Homo sapiens: one gene and its partners. The protein of the gene in region 4 purifies or fractionates together with the protein of the main gene of each other region. This does not show direct contact. Each region holds a gene or a part of one and is shown on either strand. Other genes may lie near its edges.

The links.
Region 1: the proteins of GKAP1 (region 4) and TEFM purify together in Homo sapiens (affinity purification with mass spectrometry, with the first as the bait; one large-scale study listed by BioGRID). This does not show direct contact.
Region 2: the proteins of GKAP1 (region 4) and ECT2 purify together in Homo sapiens (affinity purification with mass spectrometry, with the first as the bait; one large-scale study listed by BioGRID). This does not show direct contact.
Region 3: the proteins of GKAP1 (region 4) and RIN2 purify together in Homo sapiens (affinity purification with mass spectrometry; one large-scale study listed by BioGRID and IntAct). This does not show direct contact.

What each region holds. Positions count from the first base shown.
Region 1 is NC_000017.11:30,902,398-30,908,554, reverse strand, and holds the start of TEFM (transcription elongation factor, mitochondrial), read left to right. Parts: upstream 1-2,316; 5' UTR 2,317-2,356; coding exon 2,357-2,387; intron 2,388-4,025; coding exon 4,026-4,489; intron 4,490-6,157. UniProt on the Homo sapiens protein: Transcription elongation factor which increases mitochondrial RNA polymerase processivity. Regulates transcription of the mitochondrial genome, including genes important for the oxidative phosphorylation machinery.
Region 2 is NC_000003.12:172,752,307-172,757,877, forward strand, and holds part of ECT2 (protein ECT2), read left to right. Parts: exon of another isoform or gene 1-166; intron 167-2,202; 5' UTR 2,203-2,224; coding exon 2,225-2,354; intron 2,355-2,988; coding exon 2,989-3,068; intron 3,069-3,176; coding exon 3,177-3,269; intron 3,270-4,676; coding exon 4,677-4,859; intron 4,860-5,571. UniProt on the Homo sapiens protein: Guanine nucleotide exchange factor (GEF) that catalyzes the exchange of GDP for GTP. Promotes guanine nucleotide exchange on the Rho family members of small GTPases, like RHOA, RHOC, RAC1 and CDC42.
Region 3 is NC_000020.11:19,998,004-20,003,773, forward strand, and holds the end of RIN2 (ras and Rab interactor 2), read left to right. Parts: intron 1-2,609; coding exon 2,610-2,933; 3' UTR 2,934-4,453; downstream 4,454-5,770. UniProt on the Homo sapiens protein: Ras effector protein. May function as an upstream activator and/or downstream effector for RAB5B in endocytic pathway. May function as a guanine nucleotide exchange (GEF) of RAB5B, required for activating the RAB5 proteins by exchanging bound GDP for free GTP.
Region 4 is NC_000009.12:83,769,258-83,774,828, reverse strand, and holds part of GKAP1 (G kinase-anchoring protein 1), read left to right. Parts: intron 1-5,571. UniProt on the Homo sapiens protein: Regulates insulin-dependent IRS1 tyrosine phosphorylation in adipocytes by modulating the availability of IRS1 to IR tyrosine kinase. Its association with IRS1 is required for insulin-induced translocation of SLC2A4 to the cell membrane.

The DNA of each region.
Region 1 (6,157 bases), on a different chromosome or scaffold from region 4:
TGTAGAAAGCATCATTCCAATCTCCGCTTCCATCTTCACATGGCATTCACAGAGTCATCTTCTCATAAGAACAGCAGCCATGTTGGATTAGTCCCTGCCCCAGTCCAGCGTGTCCTCATTTTATTTTATTTATTTACTTATTTTTTTGAGACAGAGTCTCGCTCTGTCGCCCAGGCTGGAGTGCAGTGGTGCCATCTCAGCTCGCTGCAAGCTCTGCCTCCCGGGTTCACGCCATTCTCCTACCTCAGCCTCCTGAGTAGCTGGGACTACAGGCGCCCGCCACCACGCCCGGCTAATTTTTTGTATTTTTTAGTAGAGACGGGGTTTCACCGTGTTATCCAGGATGGTCTCGATCTCCTGACCTCGTAATCCCCCCTCCTCGGCCTCCCAAAGCGCTGGGATTACAGGCGTGAGCCACCGTGCCGGCCTTCCTGTCCTCATTTTAATTAGTTACATCTACAATGACCTTATTTGGAAATAATAAGGTACTGGGGGTTAGGACTTCAACAAATCTGTTTTGAGGGATGCAATTCAATCATAACATCTCAGTAAACTGAATAAGCCCTACAGTTGAGGAAATTATTTCCTCCTGATTTGGAGGATTTTGCAGAAAAAAGTTGATGTTATTTCTTGTTAGATTCCTAAGTTCCCCAGAAACTGCCAAGGTTTCTAGACTTCCTATGAGCAATTTTTTTTCTTTTTTTGAGACAAGGTCTGGCTCTGTCCCCCACGCTGGAGTGTGGTGACACGATCTCCACTCACTGCAACCTCTACCTCCCGGGCTCAGGTGATTCTCCCACCTCAGCCTCCTGAGTAGCTGGGATAACAGGCGTGCTCCACCACACCCGGCTAATTTTTTCGTAGAGACGGGGTTTCGCCATGTTGCCCAGGGTGGTCTGGAACTCAAGAGCTCAAGCGATCCGCCCGTCTCGGCCTCCCAAAGTGCTGGAATTACACTTTGGGAGCCACTGCTCCCGACCAGCACATTTTATTAATACTTATGATTCCCCTACATCCCCACTGCCTTCCAGACACAAACAATCAACCCATTGCTGCCTCATAAAAACGCAAACTCATCACCTTTCCCTCCCTCCTGAATTCCCCGTTTTTCACAAAACTGGCTCCCCATCTTCCAGAAATAATTCTTTTCTTTCCACTCTCCTTACATCTCCTAGGTTCAATTCCTTACGGTTGGCCAGGCGCAGTGGCCCACGCCTGTAATCCCAGCACTTTGGGAGGCCGAGTCGGGCGGATCACCTGAGGTCAGGAGTTCGAGACCAGCCTGGCCAACATGGTGACACCTGTCTCTACTAAAAATACAAAAATTAGCCGGGCGTAGTGGCGCTCGCCTGTAATCTCAGCTACTCGGGAGGCTGAGGCACGAGAATCACTTGAAATCGGGAGGCGGAGTTTGCAGTGAGTCCAGATCGCACCACTGCACTCCAACCTGGGCGACAGAGCAAGACTGTTAAAAAAAAAATTCCTTACGCTTGCCTCTCACCTGGGAAGATACACTCTCTTCGCGACTTCTCATTGCTCCCAGGCTCTTCACCTGCAATCCAGCCTCACATTCGCTATACAGTATATGGCCAATTTTCTAGGAACACTCTCCAGTCTGACTGCAAATCATAAACCTCGGGGACTTCAGGCTTCCTATCTGGTGGAGTATTCAACTGCTCCACCCATTATTCAAGGACCAACTAAATTCGGCGCTACATTCATCTCCCTTTATCCCTTCTAAGAGGAATACCGCTCCAGCGCCAACGCAATCTCCTCCTCCCTCGCCTTTACCTAATCCCTTGCCTGCCCTGTTTCCCCGCTGAGCTCCTCAAACACTTCGCATCTCTCCCCGTTATTCCAGTCTACCTGGTGAAAAGGTTATTTGAGGACCTTGTCTACGCTGCCCCTACCTGATCCCGCTCCCGGCGCCACAGGCTGGGCCCCAACAGGAGCTCCTCAATCTAAGTGTCTAGGAGAAACCCAGGGAGTCTCCACGAAGGAGGCACTTTACCCACTACAGACTAAAACTGGCCTCGGAATCGCCTTCCTGGAGATTCGGCCCAGCGGCTCTCAGGAGTCGGTAGGGGCAAGAACGTTTCCCCGGTGCAGTGGAAGAAGACTGCGGGCCAGCCAGGGACTCGGGATCCGGGGACAGGGCCTCGGCAGGCGCCCGCCTGGAAGCCCGCAGCCCAGACGCGGACGACCCACTGCTCAGCGGGACACACCTCGGGCCTTGCCCCGGAACGCCGCTTGGACAACAACCTTTCCGCCGAGTGCAGGCCGAGCGCTTTTGGGCGCAGCACGCAGGAACCGGAAGTCAATGGAGGAAGACTGGACCTACTGATTCAACTTGGAGATGAGCGGGTCTGTCCTCTTCACGGCGGGAGGTAGGGTGCTTGGAACACTGGGGTGATTTCCCGTCTGTCATTAGCCTCTGACCCTAGAGGCTAATGGAATACGGCGGGAGGTAGGGTGCTTGGAACACTGGGGTGATTTCCCGTCTGTCATTAGCCTCTGACCCTAGAGGCTAATGGAATACGGCTGGAGGTATTCTGGAGGAACCTGGAGTGTTTCCTTCCTCATGTCCCTCATGTCCTAGAGTGTTTCCTTCCTCATGTCCCTTGTTCAGGCCCCTCTCTTGGGGCCCCAGCCTAGCTGACGGGGCAGTTTTCGGAACATTTGTGCTTCCCCGGCCTCAGGGTCCACGGGTGGCTCCTCAGAGTGGGCGGATGGTTCACATTCTCACAGCCGCTTGCTTACCTCTGGCCACATTACTTTCCTGTGGCTGCGATGTTAGAGTGACTTCCCACTGGTTTTACAAAGTTATGCATTGTATGGTGTTTCTCATACTTGCAAAAACGTCATGTAGAAGTCTTGAAAAGTGTACGGAAGAAAGTAAAACTGCCCTTAAATCTATCACTTAGCTGAAACATTTCTTATAAACGTACAAAATTTAATTTTATTTAGTTCCACCAGATGAGATACTAAAATGTGAAAATGGAAGTGAAGACAAAACCCTTTTTTTTTTTTTTTTGAGACGGAGTTTCGCTCTTGTTGCCGAGACTGGAGTGCAATGGTGCGATCTCGGCTCACCGCAACCTCCGCCTTCCGGGCTCAAGCGATTCTCCTGCCTCAGCCTCCCGAGTAGCTGGGATTACAGGCATGTGCCACCACGCCCGGCTAATTTTGTATTATTAGTAGAGACAGGGTTTCTCCATGTTGGTCAGGCTGGTCTCGAACTCCCGACCTCAGGTGATCCGCCCACCTCGGCCTCCCAAAGTGCTGGGATTATAAGCGTGAGTCACCGCGCCCGGCCTAAGACAAACCTTAACAGGAAATATTAGTTACAAAAAGATTCCTCTAAATTAAAAATATCAGAAACTTTAAGCAGTTGGAATAATTATTTCAACTACTTGCTTCCTGATGGGTATAAAATACAATTTTCTAGGTAGTAAAACTTCGGACTGATCCATAAATATCGGGAGACATCTCTCGTGACTTGAAAACAACAAAAGCTCTATTTAAAACTCTATATAATATAGTTTAAAAACTAATCCTCTTTTAAAGATGATTCTCGGGCCGGGCACAGTGGCTCACGCCTGTAATCCCAGCACTTTGGGAGGCTGAGGTGGGCGGATCACGAGGTCAGGAGATGGAGACCATCCTGGCTAACACTGTGAAACCCCGTCTCTACTAAATATACAAAAAATTAGCCGGGCGTGGTGGCAGGCGCCTGTAGTCCCAGCCACCTGGGAGGCTGAGGCAGGAGAATGGCGTGAACCTGGGAGGCGGAGCTTGCAGTGAGCCGAGATCGGCCACTGCACTCCAGCCTGGGCAACAGAGCAAGACTCCGTCTCAAAAAAAAAAAAAAAAGATGATTCTCCAAGACAATTTAATATTGTCCTCTATTAGTTCTTAAATTCCAGGAAAGTATTTGTGACTTTGCAAAGGATCTAGTCAAGCTTGCAACTAACCCCAAAGGAAGTAGGACATCCAACTTATATTTTGCTAAATTTTCCTTTTAGAGAGGTGGAGATGCTTTCTGACCCCGTCGAGGTCATCCCTGTACTGGGCCTTACATAATTTCTGCTGTCGGAAAAAATCCACTACACCTAAGAAAATTACTCCCAATGTTACTTTTTGTGATGAAAATGCAAAGGAGCCCGAAAATGCACTTGACAAGCTCTTCTCTTCAGAACAGCAGGCTTCCATCTTGCATGTGTTGAATACAGCATCTACTAAAGAACTTGAAGCTTTCCGATTGCTTCGTGGAAGAAGGTCCATCAATATCGTAGAGCACAGAGAAAACTTTGGGCCATTTCAGAATTTAGAGAGTTTAATGAATGTGCCCTTGTTTAAGTATAAAAGTACAGTTCAAGTTTGTAACTCCATACTTTGTCCAAAGACTGGACGGGAAAAAAGAAAGTCACCGGAAAACCGGTTCCTGAGAAAGCTCCTCAAACCAGACATAGAAAGAGAAAGACTTAAGGTATATTCTTCATGTCTGCTATACTGCCTAATATTTGAGAACCTACTCTAGAAAGCACTCTTCTGGGCATTGGGTTGGGAAGTGGCTAAGACAGGGTTCTTCAGGTTTAGTTGGCAAGTATATGATCACTACCAAATAATGAGATGTACAGATAGTAAATTGGCAGTTGAGAGGAGAGAAAACAATGGGCTGTGACTGTTGTGGAAAGTTTACTGGAAGAACTCAATTTAGGTCTTAAAAGAGAGATCCTTTGGATGGGAGAGGAGGGCATTGTAGGTAGAAAGAACAGTTGATGCTGAGAAGCAGGTCTAGGCAAGGCTTATTTAAGAGGAGTGTCGTTGGAGATACCAGGCTGTGTCTAAGGGTGATGTTAGGATTAATGAGAAATTAAGGAGCAAAGATAGGTTATGGCCAGTGAGTGACTTTAGAACATTATACCAGTCTTTCCGGCAGAATTTAAAATTATTTTCTGTACCTTTTCTCCTTTAAAAAGCATTTTATCTTGAATCATGCAAGTCTATAGGTAAGATTAAAAAAAAAAAAAAAAAGCGGCTGGCTCACACCTGTAATCCCAGCACTTTGGGAGGCCAAAGCGGGCGGATCACAAGGTCAAGAGATCCAGACAATCCTGGCCAATGTGGTGAAAGCCCATCTCTACTAAAAATACAAAATTTAGCTGGGCATGGTGGCGTGGGCCTGTAGTCCCAGCTACTCGGGAGGCTGAGGCAGGAGAATCTCTTGAACCTGGGAGGCAGAGGTTGCAGTGAGCTGACATCACGCCAGTGCACTCCAGCCTGGCTACAGAGCAAGACTCTGTCTCAAAAAAAAAAAAAAAACACCATTCTAAAAGCAATTCTTTTTCTATTGTCTTAAAAAAATAAATACTAGAAATATTTGACACAGCCAATTTTTTTTTTTTTTTTTTTTTTGAGACAGAGTCTTGTGCTGTCGCCAGGCTGGAGTACAGTGGCATGATCTCACAACAACCTCCACCTCCCAGGTTCAAGCGATTCTCCTGCCTCAGCCTCCTGAGTAGCTGAAACTACAGGCACATGCCACCACGCCCAGCTAATTTTTGTATTTTTAGTAGAGATGAGGTTTTACCATGTTGGCGCCAGGATGGTCTTGATCTGTTGACCTCGTGATCCACCTGCCTCGGGCTCCCGAAGTGCTGAGATTACAGGTGTGAGACACTGCGCCCGGCCACAGCACTCAAGTATTAAACTTTAGAGGAACTCATGTCCTGTGTAACATTGCTTGATAATCATTATCTCATAAAAATCATAAGCACCATTTTTTTTCTGGACCAGTGGGTCCGTTTTTTGAGGAATATGGGTACTTTTGAAAACCTGATGAAAGCTGTGGACCCTCTTCCCATAGAAAAAGATATAGCACATATACACAGAATACTACACAGTTTCAGAGGACTGGCAGATTCTGTTAAGTCCACTCATGGACTCCAAGTAGAACTGCTGCAATTGATCTGGAACATATTTTAACCAAATTCTTCAGGGAGGATTCTCATCCAGATTCATGGCCAAAACTATTTATACCCAGATTAGAGTGGAGTTGCATCTTATTTAGGGGGCTGGATTTTAAGTCAGTTTTTATGGAGATATAAGTCATGCAGTAAAATCCTTTAAGAAAAAATCGATTGCCGACGAAGTA
Region 2 (5,571 bases), on a different chromosome or scaffold from region 4:
TTTAGTAGAGACGGGGTTTCATTGTGTTGGCCAGGCTGGTCTCGAACTCCTGACCTCGTGATCCGCCCGCCTTGGCCTCCCAAAGTGCTAGGATTACAAGTGTGAGCCACCGCGTCCGGCCTTTCAAATGGTATTTTTGATTTTCCTCTTCCAGTCCTTAAAGCAGGTTAGCTCATCTCCTGACTTTTTTTTTTTTTTAAACATTCTTTTAAGGGGACTTTGAATGAAAGCCACTTTAATGCCTTTTCATTGGAAATGGTTGAGTGTAGAAGACTTAAAATAATAGGGCTGGATAGAATTTATCATTGATTCTAAATTAAGGCTGTTACAACTATTGGACCGCTCCTTTGGAGAGCCTTAGAATAATGATTGACATGGATGTATGGTAAAGCCATAAGAAATATCCATATTGTGAATATTACATGAGAATAGTTGTTTGTTGTTCACTTTAAGACATCTATTCAGTTTTCATCTTAACTAGATTTGAGTTGTAGTACTATGTGTGTTCCACCAATGTGGAAACTGAGGTTTAACTGACTATGTGCAGGGCTGAGACAGGAAGCTGAGTTGCCTGATTTTGAAGTGTCACATAACAGCATACAGTTTAAACTGTTACTTTGCTAAGACTCTGGAGGAAGGTATTTGTATATTTTATTAATCTGAAGAAGTAGGAAAGGGGAAAGTCTGACATGTAGCTCTCGTTAAAGGTGGGTCCTCTGTATATTTGCCTAATATTTAGAAATTTACTCTCAGTAAAGTTGACTTATTGAAAATTGATAAAAAAATCTCTAAAAAAATTTTTTTAGAGAGACAGGGTCTTGCTCTGTCACCTAGACTGACTGGAGTGCAGTGGTGGGATCACAGCTCACTACAACCTCAAACTCCTGGATTCAAGTGATTCGCCCACCTCAGCCTCTTGAGTAGCTACTATAGGCACCTGCCACCCACACCTGGCTAATTTTTAAATTTTTTGTAGAGATGGGGTCTTGCTATGTTGCCCAGTCTGGTGTTGAAGTCCTGCCCTCAAGTGATCCTCCTGCCTTGGCCTCCCAAAGTGCTGGGATTTCAGATGTGAGCCCCCAACCCACCCTGATGAAAACTTGTTAAACCTTTTATTCCCTGTCTAGCTTTTAAACTCTTCTTAAGTCCTGGAAAACTTAAAAAAGGATTTTCTTTCATAGTCCAGAGTTATATTGGCACTCACCCATGCATAATTGTTTTGTCAAACCTTTTAGGGGAGAGGTGTTTTTAAAGAATTATGAAAATACTGACAAGGGACCAGCCCAATTATACCGGAGAGGTTTAGAGACATCCACAGAGGATGAGTCAAGAGTGTTGGATTGGGGGTTGGAAGACAAGATAGGTGGAGAGTCGAGCACTAAATGCAAATAGATGTGATGTAAATTATGATTTGTGCCTGAAAAATAGCTGAGAAATTCATTGTTGCTGTTGCATAGATTGTATAGGGACTGGGGTAGTTACAGATGGTGAGGGTGAATAGTTAGGCGGGGACCAAATTGTGAACTTGGTGGTGAATTTGGACTTGGACATATAAGGAGTACTCATGGAAGTTGTTAAGCAGGGAAGTGATATGGTCACATTTGTATTTAGGTGCATATTCCTGAAAACCATGTGGAGAGTGATTTCTAAGGAAACTGATGGTAAAGTTGTGTGGAGCTGGTTTATTAGACCAAGTGACCATTGTGTCATTGAACGTATAGAGAAGGGGGGCCAGATTCCAGAGATACTTGAGGTGGGATTGATAGGAATTTTGGGGAGGGAAATGTGGGAGAGGAAAAAATTAGGATAGATCTCAGATTTTTGGCTAGGATTTTTGTGGGAGGTGTGTTATGGTGGTGTTATAATTGAATATAGGAAGAGAAATTGGTTGAGGGCAAAGGTGTGGAGAAGGGAGGTAGAATAATATTTATGACTACAGTTGAGTGTTTGTTGTATGTCTAGTAATGTTCTATGTGCTTTTGATACATTGTTATTTTTATTATATTCCTGTGAGTCAGGTATTAGTATGTTTATTTTACAGAAAAAGAAACTGAGGCTCAGAGAAGGTCAGTGACTTTCTTTGGTTCATTAAAAAAATGGGTAATAATACTTTTTATAAATTCTAGGTAAAAAGAGCCTCTAATACTTACTTTTGCCCAATGACCATGTTTATGTATTTTTATTCAAATTTTATTTTTTCAGCTGATTTAGAAGAATACAAATCATGGCTGAAAATAGTGTATTAACATCCACTACTGGGAGGACTAGCTTGGCAGACTCTTCCATTTTTGATTCTAAAGTTACTGAGATTTCCAAGGAAAACTTACTTATTGGATCTACTTCATATGTAGAAGGTAAACCTGTTACCTGCTTTAAAACAATCAATTTCTATTTTAATTCTAAACTTATTAGTGACTTTCTTAAGATTTAATTTTAATACCAACTGTAATGCTAGAGCACAGGTATTAAGTAAATATTTGTTTACAGAATCCTTTTACACTATGTCATTTTTCTGATTATTATTTGGGTTATTTGTATGCTTTGCAGCTTTGAAAAGGGAGGCATCTTAATTTGGATATTCCTTTTTCTGTATGTGAGGGCGGTCTAGCTACAGCATTATTAGCTAGAAGTTATACAGTCATGACTGGTTAGGTGAAAGCTACTTTTTCCTTTACCACTTTATAAATGGGTTTTTCCTAAAATTATATGCACTGTTGAGGAGGATGACTATGTAAGATAGCGCATTCTCTGGCTAGGAGGAATGCTGATGTTTGTATACCCTGCTACAATATGGTTTCTCTTTCTCTAAAGTGATATATAGCCAGATATTTTTGTAATAAGTTGGGAGTTGAGTCCTATTAAATTTAGAGAAAGTTATGATTCCCTCAAAGATGTAATACATACTAGATATAGCCAAAAGAGCGATAAGGACCTACTGATTGTGATGTTAATACATGATAAACATTGAAACATTTTACATTTTAACAGAAGAGATGCCTCAGATTGAAACAAGAGTGATATTGGTTCAAGAAGCTGGAAAACAAGAAGAACTTATAAAAGCCTTAAAGGTACGGAGTTTTAGGTTTTAGTTTTTTTTGTAATGCAATTTTTCTTCCATCAGTGTGTAAATAGTTTCATAGCTTTCTTAACCTCATACTTAAGTCTCTTTTCCACAGACTATTAAAATAATGGAAGTCCCTGTTATAAAGATAAAAGAAAGTTGTCCTGGAAAATCGGATGAAAAATTAATAAAAAGTGTTATTAATATGGTAGGTCAAAGTAACTCATTGCATGTGGCATGCTGCACTTCCCTTGATTGTATTATTCTACTTTCTGGTGATTGGAATTAGGCACAAGGTGTATTGTGTGCAATCTGAAGCTTAATGAATAGAAACTGTTTTATACTTTTTAACTCCTTAGCTTCTTTTTTCTCATTCATTTTATATTTAGTCTAAATTCTTGCTGTATTTCCAAAATTATAAATCACGGTAATTTATAATCAGGGAATTTGCCTCAGCATACGAAATAATCTAATTCTGGAATCCAGCTGTTTTAGTTTGCTAGGGCTGCCATAACAAAATACCACATAGTTAATTGCTTAAACAGTAGAAATTTCTTTTCTCACAGTTCTGGAGGCTAGAAGTCCAAGATTAAGGTGTGTGTAGGTTTAGTTTCTCTTGAGGCCTCTCGCCTTGGCTTGCAGTGTCCTTTTGCTGTCCTCACATGGCCTTTCTTCTGTGTGTCCTTGCATCCCTGGTGTTTCCTCTTATTGGGACACCAGGTTGGATTAGGGCCCACCCCTATTATCTCATTTAACCTTAATTACCTCTTTAAAGTCCTTATCGCCAAATATAGTCACACTCTAAGGACTTCATTCTTCATTCTAGGTTAGGGCTTCAACATGAATTTTGGGGGTACATAATTTAGCACATCACACTAGCCTTGCAAATAAAATTCAAATAATTTACTGACCCATTTTGAGTTAAAAAAAAATTTTTTTTTTAATTTAACACGAGTTACAAGAGTTATATAGGTACTTTAGTATCTTCATTATTTTTCGTGGATGTATAAAGTGTTTACTGTAAGTAACTTGCCTTTTTATATCCTACATTTGCCATGCTGCAACTGCTACATATTGCACATCTTTCTCATATATCTTACATATCTGCTAAAATGATTATGCTGATTTTCCTTTCTGTAAGTATTAAGTGCTATAGTATTATTTTCCTATTTTTCTGAAGATAGTTAATTTGTACAATAAGAACTTTATGTATGGTATCATTTTCTTGGTCAGTAGTGGATATCTTTCTAATGCATCTTGATATCAAAATGCATGTACTTAAAAACTTTAGCATTCTAATTTTATGGAACTTATGCATACTTGATGATTTATGACTAATAAGTAATAAGTCAGAATTATGCCTTTATAATACTGATCTTTAAAATTTAAGAACTTAATTTGAATGGAGATATGTATATGTAAAAATGTAAGTACGTAAAGAAATATGGTTGTTCATTAAGTGTAATGCTGATTATTGTGTGATAGAAACTTATTTTCTACAAATATAAACATGTTAAAGTTGATATTGAATTGATTGTTAAGCCTTATTTAGAGAGACAGATGGATTATTTGATATATAAATAATTTTTATTTCTGCTAACTATATGATGAAAAGGACATTAAAGTGGGCTTTGTAAAGATGGAGTCAGTGGAAGAATTTGAAGGTTTGGATTCTCCGGAATTTGAAAATGTATTTGTAGTCACGGACTTTCAGGATTCTGTCTTTAATGACCTCTACAAGGCTGATTGTAGAGTTATTGGACCACCAGTTGTATTAAATTGTTCACAAAAAGGAGAGGTAAGCATATACATTTATTATGACTTTTCAAGTTAAAATTTTTATTAATGAATTTTAATTAGCAAAAAATTTATTTGGAAAAATCTCATTGATTGCTGAGAGCAAAATATTTAGAATAGGAATAATAGTGGCTATTCTAATGTGGTCCTTTAATTCCTCCATTTTAAACTTAGTGGTGAAAAGCTAAGGCCTTTGAAAGTTAAATAATGATAACTGTACATATGCATATACACAGACAAATACATAGTCCTTTTTTTTTTTTTTTTTTTGAGACGGAGTCTTGCTCTGTGCCCAGGCTGGAGTGCAGTGGCACGATCTCAGCTCACTGCAAGCTCCGCCTCCTGGGTTCACGCCATTCTCCTGCCTCAGCCTCCCCAGTAGCTGGGACTACAGGTGCCCGCCACCATGCTCAGCTACTTTGTTGTATTTTTAGTAGAGATGGCGTTTCACCATGTTAGCCAGGATGGTCTTGATCTCCTGACCTCGTGATCCACCCGCTTCGGACTCTCAAAGTTCTGGGATTACAGGCGTGAGCCACTGCGCCTGGCGTATACACTATCAATACCACAATGTCTTAGAGAAGATTACTTGCTTAAACTTGGGTTCCAGAAATTCATACATATACATAAACTTTTATTTTTCTCAACACAGAACAGATACCACGGTTCCATTTTTATCAGTTACTGTATAACTTAAAATTCAAAAATTATTT
Region 3 (5,770 bases), on a different chromosome or scaffold from region 4:
CTCGCTCTGTCACCCAGGCTGGAGTGCAGTGGTGGCACGATCTCTGCTCACTGCAACCTCCACCTCCCAGGTTCAAACGATTCTCCTGCCTCAGCCTCCGGAGTAGCTGGGACTACAGGTGCTCACCACCACACCTGGCTAATTTATTTTGTATTTTTAGTAGAGATGGGATTTCACCGTGGTGGCCAGGCTGGACTCAAACTCCTGGCCTCAACTGATCCACCCGCCTCAGCTTCCCAAAGTGCTGGGATTACAGGCGTGAGCCACTGCGCCTGGCCATTTTTTTTTTTTATAAGAGCTCTGAAAATAGAGGGTCAGATGAGGTGGCTCATGCCTGTAATCCCAGCACCTTAGAGGCTAAGGCAGGAAGATCGCTTGAGGCCAGGAGTTGGAGACCAGCCTTGGCAACAAAGTGAGACTCCATCTCGACAAAACAACCACAACAAAAAATTTTCAAGTTAGGTAGGCGTAGTGGTGCACACCTGTAGTCCCAGCTACTCAGGAGGCTAAAGTGGGAGGATCCGTTGAGCCCAGGAGTTTGAGGCTACAGTGAGCCATGATCACACCACTGCACTCCAGCCTGGGCAGCAGAATGAGACCCTGTATCAAAAACAAACAAACAAAAAGGCAAGCCCATCTTTGAAAGCCAAGATCAGCTCATTCTTCTCCATGATTGCAGTATGCTCAGAAATTCCTTCTGGAGCGCATAAACCTAAAGAGTGAGAATACACGCACTGCACTCTCCCCACCCTGTTGCACTAAGAAGGTCCCTGTGCCACTCAGTGCCTGCAGACCCCTGGGGTGCCATCATATAGCCATCCAGGGAGGGGCTGCCTAGGGCAGAACAGAGGAAGTGAAAAAAGTTCATTGTTCCTTTCCCCACCTGCCAACACACCCTCCTCCACCTCTTCACCTGGAGACCCTCAGACACCATAGAGCTGCCTTCTTCTGCAGCCGTCCCCTCCTGCCCTCATTGACCCTGCTCACCTTGGAGGTGCATGCCTTCTCAGAGTGTAACCGAAGAAGGAAATGTTCAGCACTCGGCTCAGGGGTCAAAGCAAAACCTCAGACCCAAAGCTCCATCTGGAACCCCTAAATCAGAGGCCACAGACACAGAGGTCTTCTCACATGGGAAGAGGTAGTACGTCTTGGTGGTAAAGGCGGTGGGGCTGCATCTGCCACGTCCTAGCTGTGTGGCTTTGGGCAAGTTACGTAGCCTCTCTGTGCCTCAGTTTCTGCACTAGTCAAACAGGGATTATGTAGACCCTGTCTCTTAAAAAAAAAGGTTCAAAGAGTGTCACTGTCAATCTGGGCACCTCCCACTAGCTCACCTCTCCTGCAAAGTCACTGGGCTAGCAAAAGTCCCCACTGGAAGCAGATATGAAACATATCTTACATGTGCAGAGCTCACTGTCCTTCCCAAGAGCTTTCCCTTCTGTTATCCCAGGAAACCCTCGTGGTGACCTTGCAGGCACCTGGGCAGAGAGCCCTCCTTCCCTTCACTGCTGAGCAGGGTTGCCAGATTTAGCAGAAAAAAATCTATTTGTTTTCTAGCTGAAACTCAAATTTAACTGGCTGTTCTAGATTTCATCTGATAACTCCACTGTTAAGGAAACAGAAGCAAAGTTATCTGGGGTCACAAAATCTAGGAGAGCCTGATGTGAGTTTAAGATTCTTTATGCCTGGTCTGGGCTTTGTATCTTGTAAGGCCACAGGTTTACATGTTTCATGATAGCATGTACCTGGCATGATTGCAGCACCTGAGCCTGCAAACGTCTTTGTTTAATTCCCTGCAGCACCACCTTGCATGTAATCAGCTCCATCTGCAAAGTATTTGGCAAAATCAACATTCTTCTCCTTCTGACTTTTTCCACATTGTGCCCAGAGCCACTAGGAGCCTTGTATTAGATTGAACTACATGAAATCACCATTTGGGGGAGATAAAAAATAGTCAAAAGTCAGCGCATTTTGTGTGTGTGTGATTCAACCTAAATGATTGCCCTTGCTTAGGATTTATTTAAAAAGTTTGTCAAAAGTGAACACAAGCCAGGTACAGTGGCATGCACCTGTACACCTAGCTACTCAGGAGGCTGAGGCAGAAGGATCACTTGAGCCCAGCGGTATGAGTCCAGCCTGGAGAATATAGTGAGATCTCATCTCTTAAAATGAAAAGAAGAAAACAAAAAGTGAGCACAGTACGTGCTTTTGTGTCTAGATATTTTAAATCTCTTTCTGCTGACTTCCTTCATACTCTTGTGCTATTTGGTTTAGTTTTCAAGCTGGGAATAAACCCAGCATTGGATGTGGTTCACACTCTTAAGCAGGGGTTTCTTAACCAGACCTTATGAGGGAAATGGAAAGATCAGAACCAGGGCTGCATGGACTTCCTGCTTCTTACAGTTGCAATGAATCATGTAGTCATCTTCGCCACTGTCCAAAGTCAGATCAGCCTCTTTCCTTGCCATTCGAAGCCTCGTGGCCTGACATCGGACATTATGACAGGAAAGGGCCTGGAAATGGCTTACAGTTACCCCCTCCCCTGGTCCCCCATCATGCTCACTATCTAGTTTTCTCTTCTGACTGTCTCAACATTCCTCTTCCACCTGCAGAATTACCTCCGAGTTGCATTTCAGGAGGTCAACAGTGGTTGCACAGGAAAGACCCTCCTTGTGAGACCTTACATCACCACTGAGGATGTGTGTCAGATCTGCGCTGAGAAGTTCAAGGTGGGGGACCCTGAGGAGTACAGCCTCTTTCTCTTCGTTGACGAGACATGGCAGCAGCTGGCAGAGGACACTTACCCTCAAAAAATCAAGGCGGAGCTGCACAGCCGACCACAGCCCCACATCTTCCACTTTGTCTACAAACGCATCAAGAACGATCCTTATGGCATCATTTTCCAGAACGGGGAAGAAGACCTCACCACCTCCTAGAAGACAGGCGGGACTTCCCAGTGGTGCATCCAAAGGGGAGCTGGAAGCCTTGCCTTCCCGCTTCTACATGCTTGAGCTTGAAAAGCAGTCACCTCCTCGGGGACCCCTCAGTGTAGTGACTAAGCCATCCACAGGCCAACTCGGCCAAGGGCAACTTTAGCCACGCAAGGTAGCTGAGGTTTGTGAAACAGTAGGATTCTCTTTTGGCAATGGAGAATTGCATCTGATGGTTCAAGTGTCCTGAGATTGTTTGCTACCTACCCCCAGTCAGGTTCTAGGTTGGCTTACAGGTATGTATATGTGCAGAAGAAACACTTAAGATACAAGTTCTTTTGAATTCAACAGCAGATGCTTGCGATGCAGTGCGTCAGGTGATTCTCACTCCTGTGGATGGCTTCATCCCTGCCTTCCTTCCTTTCTTTTTCCTTTTTTTTTTTTTTTTTTTTTTTTTTACAAAGAGCCTTCATGTTTTTATATATTTCATAGAAATTTTTATAGCAGTTGCAGGTAAACTGTCAGGATTGGTTTTAAAATATTTTTGTAACTTTAAAATATTCTATAATTATGCATGTGATTTTAACATTTAATATTCAAAAATAAATCTCTTGCTGGATTTGAGAGTATTGCATTTTTAAAGTCTCTCTTCTGTAACTGGATGTTTTGGCAACTTTGTGGGGAGAGACTGCTGGATTTCTTAAAGCAACGTATTCCTGACACTGGCCACAGAATGCCTTTGGAAATCGGATGTACTGTTCTCTTGTTCACGTTTAGTGGTGTTTTGCTGTTTTGTTTTTTAAACAAATGATGCTGAGAATAAGGAGAGAAATGAATGTAGAGAGAGGTAGAGAGAGAAATATGAACTCTAACAAAGGACTGAGGAGTGCAGTCTGCTGGTTCAGGCTCTTCAAAAGATGTAGAAAAAGAGATAGAAGGAACCACCTATGCTTAAAATACTGTAAATATGCAGTGAGGTTTGGCAAAATCTATTCCATGTGTGATTTGCTTGTAGAAACAATTTTGAAAGCCCCTTGAGGAAAATAAAAATCAAGAAGAACACTTTTCTCCCTTTTCCATACAAATTAAAACTTAACAGCATCAAATTATTGGGACCAGAAACCAAGTAATGTATAATGTGGCTTTTGTTGAGTTAAATAAGATGCTATATAATGGAGAAGAATTTGAAAATGCACAAAAAAATCAATCTACATTATCAGAACCTGCAGTGAAATTAAACTTATGTTAAATAAAACCAGTTTGCAGGTGCACAAACTATGAGGGTCTTGTATCCACGTAACACAGGTAGTTACAAAAACATGTTATTGTACTGTGTAAAGATGCATAGTCATCTCATTTGGTTGGCTTTGTACCTTGTACCTTTTTTAGCCTTGGCTTTTGTTGAACTAGAACCCTCAGCACATACTGTGTTGTACTTTTGTAAATGATTTTTTAAATGGAATTTTGCACATAATACATTGTAATACTGTATGATAATCATGTGTGAAAATAATTTTTGAAATATCCTTTGGCTGTTTTTTTTTTTCTTTAGAGTAAGAATATATTCATGCACCACGCAGTGTCATGGACAGATGAAATCCGAACCAGGGTTTGTGGTTAGACAATGTATCGTGGGGGTGAGCAGAAAAGCTCACATTTCTCAGAAGCTCCTCCTGATATGGGGCAAAAGTTAAGGAGCAGAAGGAAAAGATCATCCTCCCACCTGAAAGTGTTTTCATTGTTATCTAGTGCTGTACTTGGCTCAGTGGGACTTAGAGCAAATCACAGGTAATTTGAACCCGGAGTTAGCTGGGGTCCTGCAGACAGCCCCACCCTGTCCTCACGTAACCTCTGCAATGCCCTGGGTGACAGTTCAGTGCTGTTGCAAAATTGATAGCGCAGAGGCTTGGACTCCTCGCTGCCATACTCCCCATGCTTGGAAGGGTGCCTGGCATATATTAATAGTAAGTGCTCAATAAATCCTTGCTGGCTGAAGGAAGGAAAACATGAGTTTAGAAGGGTTTCTAACTCATCAGTGGGAGAGATCCGTAAAGATCAGAATGAGAATTGAATGGGCTGCCTGCTTTTGATATTTACAACGGACCAAAAGATGACAGCTCAATCCATATGGTTGTCCTCCCAACTCTTCAAACTAAGATCATCATGCTTTGTTGATTTAAAGCAGGTCACAGCCTCTGGATGCGAGGCAGCCTTGCAGCCTTCGGTGGGACGAGAGCGGGCTCAGAAGAGGAAAAGGTAGCGTGGGCAGAAAGCAACATCACAAGACGGTCCCTGGTTTTGTCATTGGGCAATGTTTCCCCGTTAAAATTACAACACAACATGTGCCTCCACTTTTTCCCCCACGCAGGCATTTCTCACTTCTCAAATTGCCAGGAAACAGACTTGGGTGAAGGTTGGAGGGAATAAGAGGAGAGTAAAAATATACATGCTGGGTGGAGGAAGAGGAGAACGCATTTCCAAATTTAAAAATACATTATAGCTGAGGTGGGAGGATCGCTTGATCCCAGGAGTTTGAGGGTGCGGGGAGCTATGATCCCGCCACTGCGTTGCAGCCTGGACGACAGAGCAACCCTGTCTTCCCCCTACAAAAAAGTAAAAATAAAAACATGTTATAAAAGTTGAACGCCGGCCAAAGGAAGGGATTTTTTTTTTTTTTTATGTTGCATGCGCTGCCAAATACTTTCACTCTAGTACCACCCCCACACCCCCGGGACACAGAATAGAAATAGAAACTGTTGAAGTAGTTCATATTATGTGGAGGTTACAACTTCAGATCTATAAGAAAATACAAAGGACAGGAAACCCAGCTATGAATGCTTCCA
Region 4 (5,571 bases):
CTGAGGCAGGAGAATCGCCTGAACCCGGGAGGTGGAGGTTGCAGTGAGTCGAGATCGCACTGCTGCACTCCAACCTGGCAACAGAGCCAGCCTCTGTCTCAAAAAAAAAAAAAAAAAAAAAAAAAAGGGGGTTTCTGTTTATTGATAGTTTCTTTTGCTGTGCCGAAGCTTTTCAGTTTAACTAGGTCCCGTTTGTCAGTTTTTGTTTTTGCTACAATTGGCTTTTTTTTTTTTTGAGACAGGGTCTTGCTCTGTCACCCAGGCTGGAGTGCAATGGCACGGTCTCAGCTTACTGCAACCTCTGCCTCCCAGGCTCAAGCAATCCTCCCACCACAGCAGCTGGGACTACAGGCACATGCCACCACTCCCAGCTAGTTTTTTGTATTTTTGGTAGAGACAGGGTTTCGCCATGTTGTCCAGGCTGGTCTTGAACTCCGGGGCTCAAGTGATCCACCTACCTTGACCTCCCAAAGTGCTGGGACTACAGGCGTGAGCCACCGTGCCTGACCTGCAATTGCTTTTGAGGAGTTGGTCATAAACTCTTTCCCAAGGCCAGTGTCCCCATTGGTATTTCCTAGGTTTTATTCTAGGATTCTTGTAGTTTTAGGTCTTACATTTAAGTCTTAAATCCATCTTGAATTAATGTAAAGTAGGTATAGACCAGGCACAGTGGCTCACGCCTGTAATCCCAGCACTTTGGGAGGCCGAGGCGGGTGGATCACTTGAGGCCAGGAGGTCAGAGACCAGCCTGGCCAATGTGGTGAAACCCCGTCTCTACTAAAGATAGAAAAATTAGCCGGGTGTGATGGCACGTGCCTAGAGCAAAACTGTCTACAAAATAATAATAGTAATAATAAAGTAGGAATAAGGTGATGTTAACAAATATGATTTTTGTTAGGTATGATGATGATAATATGGTTAAATTGGACAATTTTTTATAGCTGCATGTGAAAGAATTTCGAGATGAACTATCATAATAACTGCATTTTATTATAAAATACCTAGGCCCAAAAAGGAGGGCTAAATGTAGAAAATCCTTAAATCTAAATGTAGAGTATATGGATGAAAATTTTCATAATAAAAAGTTAAGAAACCAAACAAAATGAAATTATATTATTTAGTGATGCATCTGTAAAACAACAAAAACATGGAAATGATCAACACTAAGTTGAGGTAATGGTTACCTTGTCGAGGCACGAAGATGAGACTAAGGGAAGAGTATATAGATGGGCCATAAGGTCTGTAGGTAATATTCTAGTTTTTAAGTAGAATGGTGTGGGATCAAGTGTGTTTTTTTTTTAAACAGCTGTATTGAGTTATAATTTAAATACTATAAAATTCACCCATTGCAAGTATATAATTCACTCATGGTTGTGCAGCCATAAACACAGTCTAGTTTTGGAACATTTCCATAATCTCAGAAAATTCCCTCATAGCCATTTGTAGTCAATCCCTACTCCCACCTTCAGCCCCTGGCAACCACTGATCTACTTTCTGTCTCTAGAGATTTGCAGTTTCTTGTAACCTATAATGGACTCATAGAATGTATAGTCTTTGTGTTTGGCTTCTTTCACTTAGCATAATGTTTTTGAGGTATATCCGTGTTGTAGCATGTGGCAGTAGTTAATTCAGCCGTATCACTGAATAGTATTTCATTGTATAAATGTTGTTTATTCACCAGGTTATAGGCTTGCTATGCACATTTGACGTATGTCTTTGTGTGGATATGTTTTAATTTCTCGTAGGTGGTTACTTAGGAGTGAAATTGCTGGGTTGTGTGGTGAATTTATGTCTAACTTTTAAAGAGTCTGTCAAATTGTTTTTCAAAATGACTACCATTTTTCACTCCCACCAGCAATATATGAGAGTTCTAGCTCCTACGCATCCTTGCCAACGCTTGATATTATCTCTTGTTTTGATTATAGCCATTCTAGTGGGTATGTAATGTATTTGATTGTAGTTTTAATTTGCATGTTCCTAATAACTGGTGATTTCAGACATCTTTTCATATGCTTATCAGCCATTCTTATATCTTCTGGAAATATCTATTCAAATTTTTTGCTCATTTTTGTGTATTTTCTTATTGATTTGTATGATTTCTTTATATGTCTGAAAACAAGTCCTCTATCAGATACATGATTTGCAAATACTTTCTTCCAGGCTATGCCTTGCCTTTTCTTTTTAATTTTTTATTGATACAAAATAGATGTACATATTTTGGGGATGTCTTTTTGGTTTTTTAATTGTGTCTTTTGAAGCACAAAAGTTTTAAATTGTTATCAAGTCTAGTTTGTGACTTTATGGATTGTACTTTTGGTGTTCATTAAATAAATCTTTGCCTAACACAAGTCATGATGATTTATTCTAGAGGCTTTATAGTTTTAGTTCTTCCTTTAAGAGTCTGTGATCCATATTTTGAGTTAATTTTTGTGAATTGTGGCATATGCATAGACACTTCTCCCAGCACAACACTCTTATATCCTTAATAAAATACCTTGACACCTTTTTAAAAAGTAAATTTGATCATAAATATGAAGGCTCATATCTAGATTCTCAATTCTGTTCCATTGATCTGTATGTCTATACTTACATAAGCACCATACTGTCTTATTCATTGTGTGCTTGGTACCAAATAGGTGTGCAGAATTTGAATTAAACTGAAATTGAATTGGCTAGACTTATTATGTTAAATATTTTATGTTCTTACATTTGCCATATTTTAATCTTTTTTTCTGGTGTGTGTGGGATGTAGTAGTTGATTTATTTTTGCTTTTCTCCCCCCTATAGTTTGTTATCAGTATCTTTTGAAAAAAATCCCATCTCTAGATCAAAAAGAAACTTTGTGGCCTCACTCAAAAGTACTTAAGGGACAGAATGCCCTTTGTGATAGGCATGATGTGATGGTAATGGGAGCAACTATCAACAAGCAGGGACATTGGCTAGAATTATAATTATAATTATAATCTCTAGTGATATGAAATCCAGAGGCTGATTAGTTGCTAGCAGTATGTTATTCTTTCCACAGAAGCTCAGCAGTGGTTTTTAGCATTTCTGTATTTATTGCTGTAAAATAAAATCTTACAAGAATATACTGGAACTATTTTATGAAGCAGTAATTTTAGAGTTATGCCTGTATCCCTTAGCAATCGCACATGCATTCTTAAGGCCATAATTACTTGGGGGGGAAATAATACTTGCTCATCAACTTCTCATGATGTTTATGAAATTCAAATAAGGTAATGTTTGTTTAAGTGCTTTGCAAGATATAAAGTGTTGCACAACCATTTTTAATGTCATTCATATAGTAAGCACTGGTATACAAATAAATTTTTTTCAAACACTTTACTTTCTAAGATAATGTGAAGTGAAAAGTATGAATAATTATTGAACCTTGGGGTCGTTTGCCCACAGATACAATTGTGAATAGCTGTAGTTCAAGAATGTGGGGACAGGCATGGTGGCTCACACCTATAATCCTAGCACTTTGGGAGGCTGAGGCGGGTGGATCACCTGAGGTCAGGAGTTTGAGACCCACTGGCCAACATGGTGAAACCCCATCTCTGCTAAACAAACAAACAAACAAACAAACAACAAAAAAATTAGCCAGGAGTGGTGGCATGTGCCTGTAATCCCAGCTATTTGGGAGGCTGAGGCACAAGAATCGCTTGAACCTAAAGGGGTGAGGGTTGTAGTGAGCCGAGATTGGGCCACTGCACTCCAGCCTGGGTGAGAGTGAGACTGTCTCAAAAAAAAGAGAATGTGGGACATAGGTGAAACCAATGAGTGAGAGGAATGTTTTCTTCAGTCTCTGTCTTCATAACAGGATGTTGAAGAGGAAATGCTCCTTTTCTTGGAGAATGTAAAATTTCTAATATATAATTGGATAGACAGTGATAAAAATCTTATCTTTTAAAAATCTTCTATTGGCATGTGGAATTTATATAAAAATTATTTTAAAACGTAATGTAACGCCGGACGCAGTGTCTCATACCTGTAATCCCAGCACTTTGGGAGGCTGAGGCGGACAGATCACCTGAGGTCAGGAGTTCGAGACGAGCCTGGCCAACATGGTGAAACCCTGTCTCTACTAAAATACTAAATTACCTGGGCGTGGTGGCACATGCCTTTAATCCCAGCTACTCAGGAGGCTGAGGTGGGAGAATTGCTTGAACCTGGCCTGGGAGGAAGAGGTTGCAGTGAGCCGAGATCTTGCCATTGCACTCCGCCTGGGCAACAAGAGTGAAACTCCGTCTCAAAAAAAAAAAAGCAGTGTAAACGATTGAGCAACATAAAACTATAATAATCAAGACAATCTGGTACTGGCATAAGAATAGACATTTACAGATTGATAGAATAGGATTAAGAGTTCAGAAACAAACTATTGATTTTGGACAAGAGTCCCAACGCAGTTAAAAGGGCAAAAGAATAATCTTCTCAACACATGATGCTGGATATTGTCATGCAGAAGAGTGAATTTCGACCCTTTCTTCACACCGTGTACAAAAATTAACTCAAAATGGATCACAGAACTAAACACATGAGCTAAATCTGTAAAACTTTTAGAAGAAAATATAGGAGTAAATTTTTGAGTTAAGCAATGGTTTCTTGGATAAAATTGGACTTCATCAAATTTAAAAACTTCTGTGATACAAAGAATACCATCAAGAATATGCCAAGACAAGCCATGAAATGGTAGTAAATGTTTGTAAATCATATTCAATAAGATATAGACATTTAGAATATATAAAGAACTGTTACAACTCAAAAAAACAAGTAACCCAGTTAAAAAATGGGCAAAGGATCTGAGAAGACATTTCTCCAAAAAGATATACAAATCTTCAATAAGCACACAAAAGGGATGTTCAGCACCATTCGCTGTCAGGGAAATGCGACTGAAAACCGCAATGAGATAGCACTTCACACCCGGTGGCTATCATGAAAAAGGCAGATAACAACAAGTGTTGATGAGAATGTGGAGAAATTGCAACCCACTTGACTGCTGATGGGATTGTAAAATGATGGGCTGCTTTGGAAAATTATCTAGCGATACCTCAAAAGGTTAAACATAGAGTCACCAGCAGTTCTACTCTTAGGTATATACCCAAGAGAATTGAAAATACGTCCACACAAAATCTTGTGCATGAATATTATAGCAGCACAATTCGTAATAGCCAAAAAGTAGCAACAACCCAAATGTCTATCAACCAACAAATGGAGAAATAAAATGTAGAATGGGATATTTGGCAATAAAAAGGAATGAAGTGCTGATACAAGCCATATATGGATGAATCTTGAAAATATTTTGCTAAGTCAGAGAAGCCAGTCAAAAGTTCACATATTGGATTATTCTGTATATACAAAATGTCCATAATAGGCAAATCTATAGAGACAGTAAATAGATTAGTGTTGCCTGGGGCGGGTGGCAGGTATTAGGAGGAAATGGGGAGTGACGGCTAATGGGTACAGTTTCTTTTTGGGGTGATGGAATTGTTATATAGTTGATTGGGGTGATGGTTGTACAACTCTGTGAATATATTAAAAAACCAGTGTCTTGTACACATTAAATTGGAG